Regions from separate parts of the Homo sapiens genome. Here region 2 is linked to region 1. A link means that fine-mapping ties the variant in region 1 to the expression of a gene that starts in the linked region. Tissue or cell type: whole blood. Region 1 holds a variant in brackets; the other region holds the start of a gene. All regions are shown on one strand. Distances are between the middles of the regions.

What was found. PIP is the estimated chance that this variant, and not a neighbour inherited with it, causes the effect.
Region 2: it holds the start of ACBD6, and the variant in region 1 is fine-mapped to the expression of ACBD6 in whole blood (TOPMed, PIP above 0.99).

What each region holds. Positions count from the first base shown.
Region 1 is chr1:180,392,970-180,401,157 of GRCh38, reverse strand. It overlaps ACBD6 (acyl-CoA binding domain containing 6), which reads left to right. Exons shown (of 8, transcript NM_032360.4): 6 at 3,553-3,642. Among named protein-coding and RNA genes, the nearest start is that of MIR3121, 41 kb to the left of the region's middle. The variant C/G (reference allele first, on the strand shown) is at 3,810.
Region 2 is chr1:180,498,225-180,506,412 of GRCh38, reverse strand. It overlaps ACBD6 (acyl-CoA binding domain containing 6), which reads left to right and starts at 3,836. Exons shown (of 8, transcript NM_032360.4): 1 at 3,836-4,368. The coding sequence starts at 4,147. RefSeq lists a silencer at 3,769-3,868 and enhancers at 4,079-4,268, 3,790-4,290, 4,398-4,913, 4,914-5,429.

The DNA of each region.
Region 1 (8,188 bases):
CTAACAAAGGTTCCTTTTAATAATGGCTCTCCCTCACCAATCTCCTGAATACTTCTGGGATATTTTTCCAGAAGAGTTTTAAAAATTAGAAACAAAGAATTGTCACTTATTTTGGTAGCAATAAAAATAAATTTAACTTGAAAATTTATAAGAGATTATATCACTCATGGAAAAAGATAAAACAATTATATAGACAAATATGTAAAATAGTTCATAAATTTAGATAAAGTCTTAGAAGATATAGCTTTAATGCACACCTAAGTCATGGTTTTCCTTCTGGAGGAGAGATTTTGGAATTCTTTACCTAAAATAGTTTAATAATTGTAGTGGTCTAGGTGTGTTTGTGGTTAACAAAGAGAAAGGAAAGAAACCACAGGTGTTTATTTCCTGATTTTATCATGATTAATTATAAGGATAGCATCTCTGCAAATTACTGGTTATGTTAGTGAGTGAATAATAATCTTAAATTAGAGCATGTTTATAGGAATTTTATAATTTGAAGAAGTAAAAGGTATCACAGACACCTCATTTTGCTGGTTTTTGTTCATTTAAATATAGAGCATCTTGAAGGTTAAAATTCCAAAGCCTGATTTGTTTTGTCTGTGTTTATTTACAAGTATGTTTAATCCTACTCTTGTTTTTGAGCTTTTTAATACTGCATGGAATATTAATCATTAGGTGGTCTTAATGTAGATATCTTCAGTGCTTCTACAGAAAGTCATTGTCAGAGAATTCATTCTAATTCAAGGTTAATTAGTGTACCATTAAAATAATGTGTTACAAGAATTAATTGCATTGCAGGTCAGAAAATGTGTTAAAAAGTATGGTGTAAATGTCTGAGAGCACATCATCCTTCTTAAAACATTGCTATACATGTGCCCCGCTTCTGGAAAATATATCCAAAGTGAAAATCACTATGGAGGTCCAGTCATAGGTGTTTCCCCTAAAGTAAATTTTTGGCATCACATGGAAAATTTAAAATATGGGAAATTTAAAATATAACTCCCATTAACAGTAAAATGTGTTGCTTGTCAGCTTTACCATTGAAACAGCTAAGGATTTACATTTTAGCTTTAGTTGATATAACCCTATTGGGTCAAACCTAAGGAAAATTCAGGAACGTGGCTGAGAGATAGAAATTATCTATACATCTTATGGTAAAAGTACAAGACATATTATGTTGTCCTACTTAACTATTACATAGTTTTTGTAAGTACCCTATGTAAATATATCACACATCGTCTTAACTATGTATAACTCTTGTCAATAGTTTAACCTAATAGCCATAAAATGCACACTTACAATTAGAACTAAAAATGATAGACTTTGAAATTTTGTCTGATTCTTTTAATGTATTAATAAATGCTGTGAAACAATAACATGGACCTGTAGAATATTTTATTCATTAGTATTTATTCAGAGTCTCATTAAAATATCTAATTGTTCATATGGAGGATTTCTGAATTAGAGCCCTAGTAACAGCAGGTCACATTAGAGCTACAAAAATTTTAACATAGGAAACTGCTCTAGAACTCAACAATACATTTTCACCTGGACTTTTAGAATTGTCTCCACTGAAAAATAACTTCTGGCTGGGCGTGGTGGCTCACGCCTGTAATCCCAGCACTTTGGGAGGCCAAGGCAGGTGGATCACAAGGTCAGGAGTTCGAGACCAGCCTGGCCAACATGGTGAAACCCCATCTCTACTAAAAAGAAATACAAAAATTAGCTGGGCATGGTGGCGGGTCCCTGTAATCCCAGCTATTTGGGAGGCTGAGGCAGAACTGCTTGAAACCGGAAGGCAGAGGTTGCAGTAAGCGGAGATCCCGCCACTGCACTCCAGCCTCAGCAAAAGAGCAAAACTCCGTCTCAAAATAAATAAATAAATAAATAAAAAATAACTCCTAGTGGGCTCTGAACAAGGCAAAATAAATTTTTTTTATTTTGATACTACAATAAATTGTGAATGATTTGACCACACTTTTTCTCTGCTTTCCCCCCTCTTAGGATTTTGTGTAAGCTTATTAGAAAACAGATATTTACAGGTAAATAAAAGTAAATCAAGCAAATGAAAGCAAAAGAAGAAGACAATTTGTAGGGAAGAAGTTTTCCTACTTTGTTTTTTGTTTAAAGAATAGATCCTAGTTTAATTATTTGAAATAATAGGTATGTGAAGAAAGTCTGAATGATAAAAAGAATGTAGGCAGTTTTAGAAAAGCTATTTCTTGAAAGGTGCTTTTTACTTTAAATCAATCCTTGCCCTAGCTTATATCTATTTAAATCTTTTCTAAAATCACATAAAGTAGGGATGTCAACTTAATGTGGAAAAACATTCCATTCTTTATAAATGACAACATCATCACCATCCTCAGAAAGTAGTAAGCCATGCATCACTCATTTATTCAGAAAAGCCCTTAGCTTTTGGGGTTTTGTTTATTCTTTTGAACCAAGTAGGCTTTTTTTCATTAACTAAAACAAGATTTTCTGGCAGTAGAGAATAGAAATAACACACGTAATAGTAACTGTGAGTCTTTGGTAGACAAGTGTTAAAATTAATATTTCATATTTAGTACTTTATCTCCTAATATTTAGTCATCCATTCTCTTTTACAAGTGGCTTTCACAGTCAACTGTTTGGTGATAGACACTGATAGATTGTACTAGTGTTTTTGAGGTATTTCAGAGTGTAAACTTGCAATAGTAAGGAGAAATGCTTATTTTCAAACTGGTTAAATAATCTTTTTAAGGAATGAACTCGAGGAAATTTAGTTATCATACATTTAGATTATGATTTCTACCTAGGTTTAAGTGCTTGCTTTTTTATTCTTATGATTTCTTTCCAGAAAAAAAGAAATGGACATAATATTTAAGAAAACTATACTTTATATTTAAAGTACAGTTTACAAAGCATTTTCTTACAGTTCATTTAGCAGGTATTATTTATATTATTGTTGTTATTACTATCATTATCTCCACTCTGTAAGTGAACTGATTGAGCTGAAAGCAGGCATTGGGCTAGTACAGACCCAGAAGTAGATATTGGGGCTTCCTATTGATTGTTTTCATTGTTGTTGTTGTTGTTGTTGTTGTTGTTGTTGTAGTTTTTGAGATGGAGTTTTGCCCTGTCACCCAGGCTGGAGTGCAGTGGTACAATCTCGGCCCACTGCAACCTCCGCCTCCCGAGTTCAAGCGATTCTCCTGCCTCATCCTCCCAAGTAGCTGGGATTACAAGCACCCATCACCATGCCCAGCTAATTTTTGTATTTTTAGCAGAGACAGGGTTTCACCATGTTGGCCAGGCTGGTCTCGAACTCTTGACCTCAAGTGATCCACCCACCTCGGCCTTTCAAAGTGCTGGGATTACAGGCATGAGCCACCATGCCCTGCCCCATTGATTGTTTATTGCTTTTTCCATAGTGCATTTTTTATATCAATCATTCTTAGAATAATTAACCCATAATTTTTTATATTTCCTTGTCTTTCTTAAAACATTATATCTTTTACATGGCTCCACAACTGAGATAACAAATTCATTTATCTTCTGTGTTTTTAGGGTAGGGCTCTACTTCACTGGGCCTGTGATCGAGGACATAAGGAACTAGTCACAGTGTTGCTGCAACATAGAGCTGACATTAACTGTCAGGTAAGAGTGATAAAGAAGAGCTTTTATTTTTTAAATTGAAGTATAATTCGCATAACATAAAATTTACCAGATTAACTCTTTTGAAATGTGCAATTCAGTGGCGTTTAGTACATTTCACAATGTTGTGTAATCATTGCTACTATATAGTTCCGTAATACTGTTGTCAC[C/G]GCAAAAGAAAACCCTGTTCCCACTAAGCAGTCACTTTTTAACATTTTTTTTATTTCTCCCCTTGCCCCAGACCTTGGCAACCACTAATCTGCTTTCTGTTTCTATAGATTTGCCTATTCTGGATATTTTATATAAATGGGAATCTTAAAATTTATGGTTGTGTTTGACTTCTTTTACTTAGCATAAAGTTTTGAAGGTGTATCTATATTGTAACATGTAACAATACCTCATTCCTTTTTATGGCTGAATTTTTTGGATATCCCAAATGTTGTTTATCCATTAATCAATTGATGGGCAGCTTGAGTTGTTTCTGTCTTTTGGCAGTTGTGAATAATGCCACTGTGAACATTTGTGTCCTTGTATTTTTATTTGAATACCTGTTGTCAGTTCTTTTGGTTGTAGACATAGGAGTGGAGTTACTGGGTCATATGGTAATTTGATGTTTAACTTTTTGAGCAACTGACAAACTGTTTTCCATAGGAGCTACACCATTTTTCATGCCCAGCAGCTGTGTATGATGCTTCCAGTTTCACCACATCCTCACCAATACTTGTTATTTTTGCTTTTTTAAAAATAACTATTTTAGTGGGTATGAAGTGATATCTCATCATGGTATAATTTTGATTTACATTTCCCTAATGACTAATGATATGGAGTACCTTTTCATACGCTTGTTGACTATTTGCATATCTTTTCTGGAGAAATGTCTGTTTAAGTCTTTGCCCATTTTAAAGTGATTTGTCTTTTTGTTGTTGAGTTGTAGGAGTGCTTTATATATTCTGGATACTAGACCCTTATCAGATACATGATTTGCAAGTGTCTTCTCCCTTTTTGTGGGTTTTCTCTTTATTTTCTTGATGGTGTCTTTTGATGCACAGGTTGTAAATTTTGATGAACTCTATCATTTGTTTTCTCTTTTTTCCTTTTGTTTATGGTGTCATACTTTAGAAACCATTGCCAAATCCAAGGTCATTAAAATTTACCCCTTTCCAGAACCTAAGGTTTTGGTTTTCTTCCTCTTTTTTATTGTGGTAAAATACTCATAGCATAAAATTTACCATTTTAACAATTTTAAGTGTATAGTTATGTGGCATTAAATACATTTGTATTGTGTGTGCCCATCACCAGCACCCATCTCCAGAACTTTTTCATCTCCCCCAACTGAAACTCTAACCATTAAACACTAATTTCCCATTCCTCCATTCCCTCAGCCCCTGGCAACTACCATTCTACTTTCTATTTCTGTGAATTTGACTACTCTAGGTACCTCATATAAGTGGAATCATACAATATTTGTCCCTTTTTGACTGGCTTATTTCACTCAGCATAACATCATCAAGGTTCATCCATGTGGTTGCATGTGTCAAAATTTCCTTCCCTTTTAAAGCCGAATATTATTTGTATGTATTTACCATACTTTGTTTATTCCAATATCTGTGGCACTTGGTTTGCTTTTACCTTTTGGCGATTATGAATAAGGATGCTGTGAACATGGGTGTACAAATGTCTGTTCAAGTCCCTGCTTTCACTTCTTTTGAGTATATACCCTAGAAATAGAATAGCTTGATCATATGATAATTCTACGTTTAATTTTTTGAGGAATTGCCATATTGTTTCCCACAGTAGCTGCACCATTTTACATTCCCACCAGTAATACACAGATATTCAAATTTCTCCGCATCCTTGTCCACACTTGTTGTTTTCTGTGCTTTTGACAATAGACATCCTAATGACTGATTTGGGTACCTTTTATTTCATTTTCTTGCCTAATTGCTCCGGCTGGGCCTTTCAGTACTAGGTTGAATAGAAGTGGTAACATAGGCATCTTTGTCTTTTTACACTTAGGTTCTGGAAAAAGCTAAAAATAAAAATAAAAAAAAATCACACAACACTGGTGTTACCATAAATCATGGTAATATCATCATTAAATTTGACTACCAAATCTTCTGGTCTTTATCTTCAGAATACCTCCTATTTCACAGAGAAAGTAGAATAAATGTTTATCACCAACCCAGATCTCAGCCAGTAGCTCCAGACACACATATCTCTTCTTTGATATCCCTCAGACACTTCAAACGCACAATATCTAACACTAAACACCAGCATCCTTCAACAGTCCACCCTTCCCCGCCCACTACTCACCATAATTGGCACCATCATCCAACCAGTTCCCAGGAGAATGTATCATAATTTAGTTAACTAGTACCATGTAAATGGACTGTAACAATTTATACTTCCACCAGCAGTGTGTGAGAGAATTCCTGTTTCTCTAGCCATGCCAAATAGTTTATCATAACACTTTTTGTTCTCTGCCTGTTTGATGAATGATGAATGGTATATTATATTTTTAATATAGCTTTTCCTCAGTTTCCCATTGTATTGATGGTATTTTTCTCCTTACAGGAACTTTTTATATAGTAAGGAAAATTTGCACTTTCTTTGTGATATAGTTGTTTAAATTTTCCCCCACATTTTCTTCTAGTACTTTCATTATTTCGTGGTTTTTATCAACTCATCTATAATTGATATATGTATCCTATGTATGTAATAGGAATTTTACTTTTGTCCAGATGGTGCCAACTTTATTTTTGTCCAGATGACTAGCCAGTTCCAGTAATGTTTATGGAATAATTGGTATCTTTTCTATAGCAATTTGAACTGTCTTACCATAGTCTCAATTCTTTTATGTATTTCAGTCTATCTTGGGGGCTTGTTCTTCCATTCCATTGCTCTGGTTTTCTGTTCATGTATTTGTGCTACACTGTTTTAAGTATTATAGCTTCAAAATATATTTTTAAATCCGGTTGGGCAAATTCCTTCACTACTCATTCAAAATACTTTCTACTATTTTTGCTCATTTATTTTTCTGTGTAAATTTCAAAGTCATTTTTTCAACATCCAGCTTTCCCCAACCACTATTACCACTAAATTAAAACAACAAAGAAAAAAAAAAAAACTGGCCAGATGTGATGGCTCATGCCTGTAATTCTAGCACTTTAGGGGGCTGAGTCAGGAGGATCACTTGAGGCCAGGAGTTTGAGACCAGCCTGGGCAACATAGTGAGACCCCATCTCCACACATTTTTTTTTAATTAGATGTAGTGGTGGGTGCCTGTAGTCCTAACTACTCTGGAGGCTGTGGTGGGAGGATCACTTGAGCCCAGGAGTTTGAGGTTACAGTGAACTATGATTGTGCCACTGCATTCCATCCTGGGTGACAGAGCATAAGACCCTGTCTCTAAAAAACAACAAAACAGTTTTTTGAACCAAACACATTGTTTGGAGGTATTGTATATGGAAATATCCCCAAGTTAGGCATTGCCTGAGGTTTTTGCCTTGCGGATTTCTTACGTTCTATTTGTTTGGATAGTGTGAGACAAACAATCCAAAAACTATAGGTGGCTTTATAGAACATTCTTTACTAAACACTAAGCTTTAATGCAAAGTAAAAGTTCCGTGTAGGTTTTTAGGACGGATCTGTTAGAATTATATGCCTGCCACAATGTTTTCCTTTGTATTCACATGACCATTGTGTGTAGCCACCAGCTTTGATTCTCTTTTGACAGTCATAATCTATACAATCTAACTTTAGTTAATGGGTTGCTTTTGGCTTTTCCAGTTTGAGTTGCTAACATGCTTCGAAGTCAGAGGGCTTCTGGAGATTAGCGCTCAGAATAACTCTTTTGCTTGTAATATCTTCTTTGGTTTTGTTATTGAAAACGCTTTTCAAATATAGACAATACAAACATAATAAATGGAAGGAAAGGTTCATCTCCTCATGACTCTATATTTCTTAAACAACATTATTATTGACTGGCCTATTGGTTGCCAAAAAGGAAAATCAATTTTATTGGAAGTATTTGCTTGGCCACAGATCTTGGTACTAACTCAGCACAGACAGTCTGATGTTATCAGCTATCTGAAGACTAATTTTTACCATTAGTCTGAAACGAAGCAGTAATTAGAGATATGTCAAAGTCTACTCTGTGTTTTCCTGTCATTTTTTACCCTTCAGTCTATCTCATACATTTTTTTTTATACTGCGGCTTCTATGTTGTGTGACTGTGATGGAATTGAAGCTTGAAATTTTATTTCTAAGAAAGATGCTGTATAGATTTCATTTGTTATCTGACAGTATTATGGATACAGTTTTGTCTCTTCCACTGCTTGGTATTGATTTTTAATTCCACTCTGGAAGTTAGGTTCTTGCCACATTTGGGATTAGGATATGGCTTACGGGCGTGCGCACGCACACACACACACCCTTCTCTGACTTCTTGAGTAACTTTGATTTTTCAAGCCCTGAAGAAAGATTAAAACTACCCCCCAAAGCACATTAAAAGGTATTTGAATGCTGAACATTTATTGGTAGGAGGAGT
Region 2 (8,188 bases), 110 kb before region 1:
CTCAAGTGTCAATGTCCTTCAGGCAGAGACCTCCAGGAACACATCTGTAGTTAACCAAGTTGGAATTATTTCTGGTTGCAGTGAGGAAGAACACACACCTTGAGGAAGAATGGGCTGCCTCGGTAAAAGGGTGTTAAGAAAGAACCTATTATACGATTTGGGCTTTGTGGTGATTTGGGAGAGCATCTAAGGAAGCGGGAATATGCTCTCAATTGGATGCAGTCAGAAAGCTGGGGGAAGTCTATGATTGTGTCAGCAGGGAAACGTATCTGAGTCACACGACTTCAAAATAGTAATACCAGTGGTGAATCCCTTGGGGTCTGCAGCACCCTCAATTCTGGCCTCCTCCGAATAAAGTATTCAACTGATGGACATAGGCAGAAGGAGAGACCCAGGCAAGTTTTAGAGCAGCAGTAAAAGTTTATTAAAAAGCTTTAGAGCAGGAATAAAAAGAAGGAAAGTATGCTTGGAAGAAAGCCAAACAGGCAACTTGAAAGGCAAGTACACAGCTTGATATTTTGACTCAGGGTTTGTTTTTGTTTGTCTTGAGACAGATTCTTGCTCTGTTGCCTAGGCTGGAGTGTAGTAGCGCGATCTTGGCTTGCACCCTCCACCTCCCAGGTTCAAGCAATTCTTGTGCCTCAGCCTCCTGAGTAGTTAATTCTGTTTTTTTTGTTTTTTTTGTTTTGTTTTGTTTTGTTTTGTATTTTTAGTAGAGACAGGGTTTCACCATGTTGGCCAGGCTGGTCTCAAACTCCTGACCTCAGATGATCCGCCCGTCTTGGCCCTGCAAAGTGCTGGGATTACAGGCATGAGCCACTGTGTGCCTGGCCTTGGGGTTTTATATATTGGCTTACTTCTGCGGTCTTGCATTACTTCTCCCCGATTCTTCCCTTGGGGTGGGCTGTCCGCATGCACATGCTTGAGCCCACTCGCCCCACTCCTGAGATCTTATCGGGAAGCTGCTGATCACTAGTTTCAGGTGTTTTCTATCAGGAGCCTGCTGTTCCCTGGTGCCAGCTGTGATCAATTATTATTTTAGTGAGACAGTTAACAACCGCTTGACCATCACCTGATGGTTGCCCGACATTCCTGATATGTGCGTGTGGTGCGGAGCCCTCTCCTGCCCTGCTCATTCCTGACTAGCTACCTACTGTAACAAGATTGAGATCTTGGGCATCTCAGTCTTATCTATAGAGAAGTGGCTAGCATGAGAATAAAGCTGCAATTTTAAAGTAGTAGTAGTTATTTGTTTGGGCCAAGAAAAAGGTGTTGTATTTTGTAGTCAGTAAAGTGAGCTTTTTGTCTGTGCTTAGAAAAGCTTAATGAAGTGGTTTGCTTTGTATCATTGTATCATGATTTCAGAGTGACCTTGTCTGCAGTTGCTATTTTGTGAGATTATTTCTCTTCAATAGGAGAATAACAAGGCCTAGCTGTGAGTGTCAGGCCAGCTTCTCAATGTTAAGGACTCTTTCCTTTTTCTTTCTTACATTTTAGTTTTATAATACATTTTTCATTCAAATATACATACAGAAAAGTACATAAATTATAAATGAATTTTCATAAAGTGAACACATCAGTGTACTAATGTTCGGCTTAAGAAACAACATATCCAACTTCCAGAAGTCCCCTTCATGCACCCTTCAGATCACTAACCCTGAGGTTACCCACTATCCTGAGTCTAACACCACAGATTAGTTTTGCCTGATTTTGAATTTTTTATGACTAGAAACATGTAATATGCACTTTTTTGAGTATAGGCTTATACTCAACATTATGTTTGAGATTCATTCATGTTATTCTGTGTCATTGTAATTAGTTCATTCTCACTGATGAATAGTATTCCATCATGTAAGCACACCAGTTTATCTCCATTCTAGTGTTGATGGACATTCAGGAGCTTCCAGTTTGGAGCAATTAGGAATTAGTTCATAGTGCTGCTATGAATGTTCTCGTACATGTTTTTGGTGAATGCCATGTATATATTCCCGCTGGGGAGGAGTCGAATTGTTGTATATTTATGTTCAGCTTTAGTAGATAGTGCCAAACATTTTTCCACAGTGATTGTACCAATTTATGCTCACACCAGCAGTGTAAAAGAATTCTGGTTGCTCTCTTTCCCATGTTATGTAAACTCTTCCAGAATACAGAAAAAGATGAAAACTTCTAAATGCATTCTACAAGGATTCTATTACCTTGATACAAAATTGAGAAAGTATAGAAAAGGAAAACTATAGGTTAATGACATCTTTAAATGGAACTGTAAAGATAATGAAAATATTAGCAAACTGAACCTACAAATTTTTTAAAAAAACCAAACCAGGACCAGAATGGGTTTATTCCAAGAACAGAAGTAATGCTCAAAACTAGGAGGTTTTGAAATAATGCATACTAATTTATCAATGTTAGCTATTATATAATTCATTAAATCCCAAATTTATTTTTGTTAATATAATTCATTAAAATAGAAACTGTTAATATAATTCCTTTCGAAGACTAGAGGAGAAAAGCAGATAATCTCCAAAGATGCCAAAAAAGCCGTTGATAATATTCAATTCTCACTTTAATAAAAATTCTAGAAACAAAGATATAAAAGTCCATGTTATATCTCCTTCAGTCTACTTGTCGGGTTCATCATCCATTATTACCCCACATGAAAGCTAACTTCTTTTTCCTTGCTCCTCCATTTGCTAGCTGTGTAGCCTTTGACAAGTTACTTAACCACTCTGTGCTGATTTCCTATGTGTAGTAAAATAAGAGTACCTACCTTATGTTGTAATGATCAAGTCCTCAATACATTATTCTTAATCACTTTTTAATTGCAAGAATTTGGTCATTAAACATCCCTTTGACTGGATTGCGAGCACCTTGACAGCAGGGACTAACAGTGGAACTTTCTGGAGACTTAAGGAATGTCTGTTGAATCCTGATGCAAGCTTTCTCACCTTCCTGTGTTCTCTCATTGCTTCCTCATCCTGTCCAGCCGTCCGTCCACCCGTCGCAAGCCTAACCCCAGTCAATAACCACTGTTTACAACACTTTCTTTGTACCCTTCTTATAGTGCTTATTACATTGTTTTGAATACTAAATGAATATATAGTGCGTCGTTGTGTTTAACATTTAGGACATAACCACTCATAATGTTACAGTTAAAAAAATAGTTTTGTGCATTCCTCTAGGGCCGAACTGTGCCGTACTTCTGGTTTCACTGTACAGTGTCTACAAAGCACAGTGTCAAAGACAGAGCTCGGGATGAGAACTGGGCTAAGGCGCGCCCCGAACTCCCCAAACCCTATTATTCAGGGCCCGGAGAGGTGCGGGCTCCGAAGGTGTGGAGAGCGAAACACGCAGAGCAGTGATTCCACTCATCAGTCACACAGTAAGACGGGACAGCCCCATCTCGCAGTTTTTCATTATTCAACACAGAGCCCAACGCGCACGCAACAGATCCGCGCGCAGGGCTGTTTGGAGGCGCTTGGGGCGCACAATCTGGGGCAGGCGGAACCTTAGTCCTCAGCCTCGCGTTTCCCGCGACTCCGCTCTCACCGCTACACTACCACACAAACGGCCTCCTTCCCCCACCCCCGGGGGCCCATCCCGGTGGCGGGCTCCGGAGCTCGGGACTGCTAATTTCAGCGAAACGATTAAAAGACGCCCCTACAGCTGACGGCACTTTCTCTCCTCCGGCAGGGAAGGACGTCCAGCGTAGCGTCGCCCGCGCTTCCCCGCCGGCGCAGAGCAGGCCTCACAGAATCGCACGCCGCTGGCACGCACGCCGCCCCGCCCCCACGGCCCAGCGCCAGCCGCGCCCCGCGCTCGCACGCATCCCGGCCTCACTGCCCCTCGACTCCTGTTCCGTTGGAGGGGCCTGAGGCGAGCCTGAGCGCGCTGTTGGCCGGAGGGAAGCCGGAGGAGACCGGGTCGACTGGGCAGAGCGGCAGAGGGTCGAGGAGCCTGCTCTGCACGCCCAGGGAGTAGAAGTGGGCAGGGAGCAGGGTCACGTGAGGGAGCGCGCCGCGACTGAGCTTGGGTCCGACTGGAGCTCAGGCTCGCGACCCAGACTGGTGGGCCAGGCCTCCAAGCCGGCCTTACACCCAATCCAAGGAGGACAGACCGGACACAGAGGGACGGAGCGAGCAAGGAGACATGGCTTCATCATTCCTGCCCGCGGGGGCCATCACCGGCGACAGCGGTGGAGAGCTGAGCTCAGGGGACGACTCCGGGGAGGTGGAGTTCCCCCATAGCCCTGAGATCGAGGAGACCAGTTGCCTGGCCGAGCTGTTTGAGAAGGCTGCCGCGCACCTGCAAGGCCTGATTCAGGTGGCCAGCAGGGAGCAGCTCTTGTACCTGTATGCCAGGTACAAACAGGTAAAGTAGCAGGGAGAGGGTGGATGGGGGAGAAAGACACGGAGCCTTCTTCCTCAACAACTGATAGCAAGCATGTATGGTTAATAGCTAGGTGTAATGAAGCTTGTGTATGTGTATTTTGTTTTGTTTTTTTTTTTTTGACCATCTGCTGGGGATGAGCATCATCCTGAACGTGGAAAAGATGTTTGCTTTCTTAGGAGTGATGTTTATTTAGCTGGACACTGGACATTGTTTTTGTGTTTTTTTCTCTGACTTATTCAGTGATCTTGCATTTTACCAGCCCAAGAACCTTTACAAAATGAGGATAAAATAAGATATATCATTCATTTACTCTTTCCCAGAGGGCCACATGGAAGTAAATACGGTAAAGTTAATAAAACTATATAGAGATCCAAAAAGATAATAGGATTGTAATAATGTGATGCAGGGCTGGGCGTGGTTGCTCACGGCTGTAATCCCAGCACTTTGGGAGGCCGAGGCGGGAGGATCACCTGAGGTCGGGAGTTGGAGACCAGCCTGACCAACATGGAGAAACCCCGTCTCTACTAAGTTAGCCGAGCGTGGTGGCGCATGCCTGTAATCCCAGCTACTCGGGAGGCTGAGGAGGCGGAGGTTGCGGTGAGCGAAGATTGTGCGCCATTGCACTCCAGCCTGGGCAACAAGAGCGAAGAAACTCCACCTCAAATAATAATAATAATAATAATGTGATGCAATGCAAAATGCAGTATTACAACTTTTATTGTGATTTTTATAAAATCCTAAATATCTTTGATTTATGTTTTCGTTGAGTATGTCTTCCTTTCTGTTTGATACAATCTAAAAATTTTAGAGCTATGAACACCAGAGGAAATAATGCCCTTCTTTTACAGTAAAGGAAACTGAAGGCCATAGAGAGTAGGCACCTTTCCTAGGGTCATACAAATACATCAGTCAGAACTGGATTGTAGCTCCTGACTCAGTCTAAGGCTGTGAACTTTACCTGGAAATAGGGAGGTGTATAGACACGTTTAATTTATAATTCAGGGTGACATTGGTTGGTACCAGAAGGAAAATAATTGCTTTATCATAAGCAACATATATTTGTTCAGCAGCTTTTATGTGCAAGACACTTGGGTATAATGCCTACAGAGAATGCAGAGAAGCAAAAACATCATGACACTTTGCAGAGAAGCAAAAACATCATGACACTCACTTTTTTTTTTTTTTTTTTTTTTTACAGAGGGTCTGGGTTTCACCACATTTCCCAGGCTGGTCTTGAACTCCTGAGCTCAGACGATCCACCTGCCCAAAGTGCTGGGATTACAGGCATGAGCCACTGCACCTGGCTGACACTTTTTTTTTTTTTTTTTTGAGATGGAGTTTTGCTCCTGTTGCCCAGGCTGGAGTGCAGTGGCTGGATCTTAGCTCACTGCAACCTCTACCTCCCCGGTTCAAGCGATTGTCCTGTCCCAGCCTCCCGAGTAGCTGGGATTACAGGTGCCTGCCGCCATGCCCAACTAATTTCTTGTATTTTTAGAAGAGACGGGGTTTCATCATGTTCGCCAGGCTGGTCTTGAACTCCTGACCTTAGGTGATCTGCCTGCCTTGGCCTCCCAAAGTGCTGGGATTACAGGTGTGAGCCACCACGCCCCGCCAACATTTGCTTTAAGAGACTTAAAGTACTTGAGGAGTCTAGGTTTGAACATACCTGAAAAATTGCTGACAAGAGTTAAATAACAGTTCAGGAAAATTACAGCTCTTTGAAACACTAGAGGAAAGGAAATTCTGGATAATAGCCTATTTTGTTTTATTAAAAATGTGTAAACTTTTTTTCTTTTTGCCTCTTGACATAGTTACGTATTTTCCCCTGTATTTGTTAAAGGAAAAATAAGTTGGGGGAGAGGTCCTGCTGTGTTCTTTTTTTTTTTTTTTTAACTAAAAAAGTTTTTTTAGAGACAGGATCTTGTTTCGTTGCTCAGGCTGGAGGGCAGTTACACACTCATAGCTCACTGCAGCCTTGAAGCTTCTGGCTTCAAGCGATCCTCCTGCTTACGCCTCCTGAAGTACTGTTATTACAGACATGATCCCGCATGCCCAGCCCCACTGTGTTCTTAAACTGGATGTACTGAGTAAAAATGAACCTTGTTTTGAAGGTTGATGGTCATTATTATGAATATCAGTTAATGTGACCTGAGAGAGAAAGCTGTAGGAACAAATGGTATAAATTATAGTGTCGAATGAAAATTACCTCCAAATTGGCCTTGGAATTAGCTTTCTTGGAAAAGTTGTAGATATCTGTTTTCTCTTTGGTCATTTGTTATACTTTGTCCTAATAACATTAGAGTGAAACTTTTGATTATTTAACAAATATTTACTGAGAATCATATTTTAGGACCTGTAATATGTCTGATGATTCTCTGGGCAGTATGAGACTAATTTTCCCCAAATTCCCTAGAAAATATTATTTTTCGTTCTAGGACATATCTTTGTTTATTGATATTGGTGTCATTATTAAAATACTATATTTCTAAGTCATCAGTGAACTGTAGTCACCTATCGACTTGGGAACCATTTTGTCTCAGGTATACTCACTTCATCCAGATAATATGAAGGAGGGATGTCCCTCATCCTTTCAAGAACTTGACTTTATGGTGTTTAGAGATATTCTGTATCTGAAAATAAAATTCTGCATTGTTAGAGAATAATATGCTTACTTATATATGACACTGGGCCGCAGTTTTCATCAATCTCCTAAATATTTTTGACAAAATTGTGAGATAGTGTTAAGAATAGCATCTTTGATAGAATAATAAAGTTGGAAGTCCAATATCATTTCTGCATATTGGATCAAAATTTATAAAATAACGTTTTGTATTCAGAATAGCACCCTATTTTGTAGGCTGGATGAGGTTGTTGGCAGGAAGATAATAAAAATAAGCTGAAATATGAACCTTATTTTCTCAGGGAGAACTCTAAACTTAGCATCATAGCTTTATTAGTCTCAGATAAGCCTATGGCTTCAGAATAATCTTTTAATAAAGTTTTAACAAAATCGAATGAACAATTTTTTGGTCCTTCTTTACATCAGCCTACACTCTCCCTCCTAAAGATAGCTAATTGACAGCTGTGAAAACTGGAGAGTAATGAAAATTTGTGAATTCCTGTTGACTTCATAAGATACTGTTTAATAATACTTTTTTTTTTTTTTTTGAGACAGTTTTGCTCTGTCATCCAGGCTGGAATGCAGTGGCGTAATCTGGGCTCACTACAACCTCCGCCTCCTAGGTTCAAGCTATTCTCTTGCCTCAGCTTCCCGAGTAGCTGTGATTACAGGTGTCTGCCACCGCACCTGATTGATTTTTGTATTTTTAGTAGAGATGGGGTTTCACCATGTTGGCCATGGTTGACCAGGCTGGTCTCCTGATCTCAGGTGATCCACCTGCCTTGGCCTCCCAAAGTGCTGGGATTACAGGCATGAGCCACCGTGCCTTAATACTACTTTATTAAATATTAACCCTTGAGTCAAGTCTTACATTTTGTGTGATGAGATGGGAAGTACACACAAAGTACTTCTGCTGCATACTGAATTATGTTAACTATTTTGAGGAAAAGCACTTGTGTAATTTCTGAGTCGCAAAATGAACTATATTCTTTTCCAATTTTACTTAACAGAACAACTCACAGATAATTATACCTACTCAAATTTGGGTATTTGGCAGGTAGTTTCTTAAAAATGAACGAAATAAGCCTGTCACTTCAAGGAAAACAACTCAAAGTGTTTGTTGCCAGTAATAACATTTGAACCTTCAAGTGAAAATGAGAAATTTGGAAAATCTATATC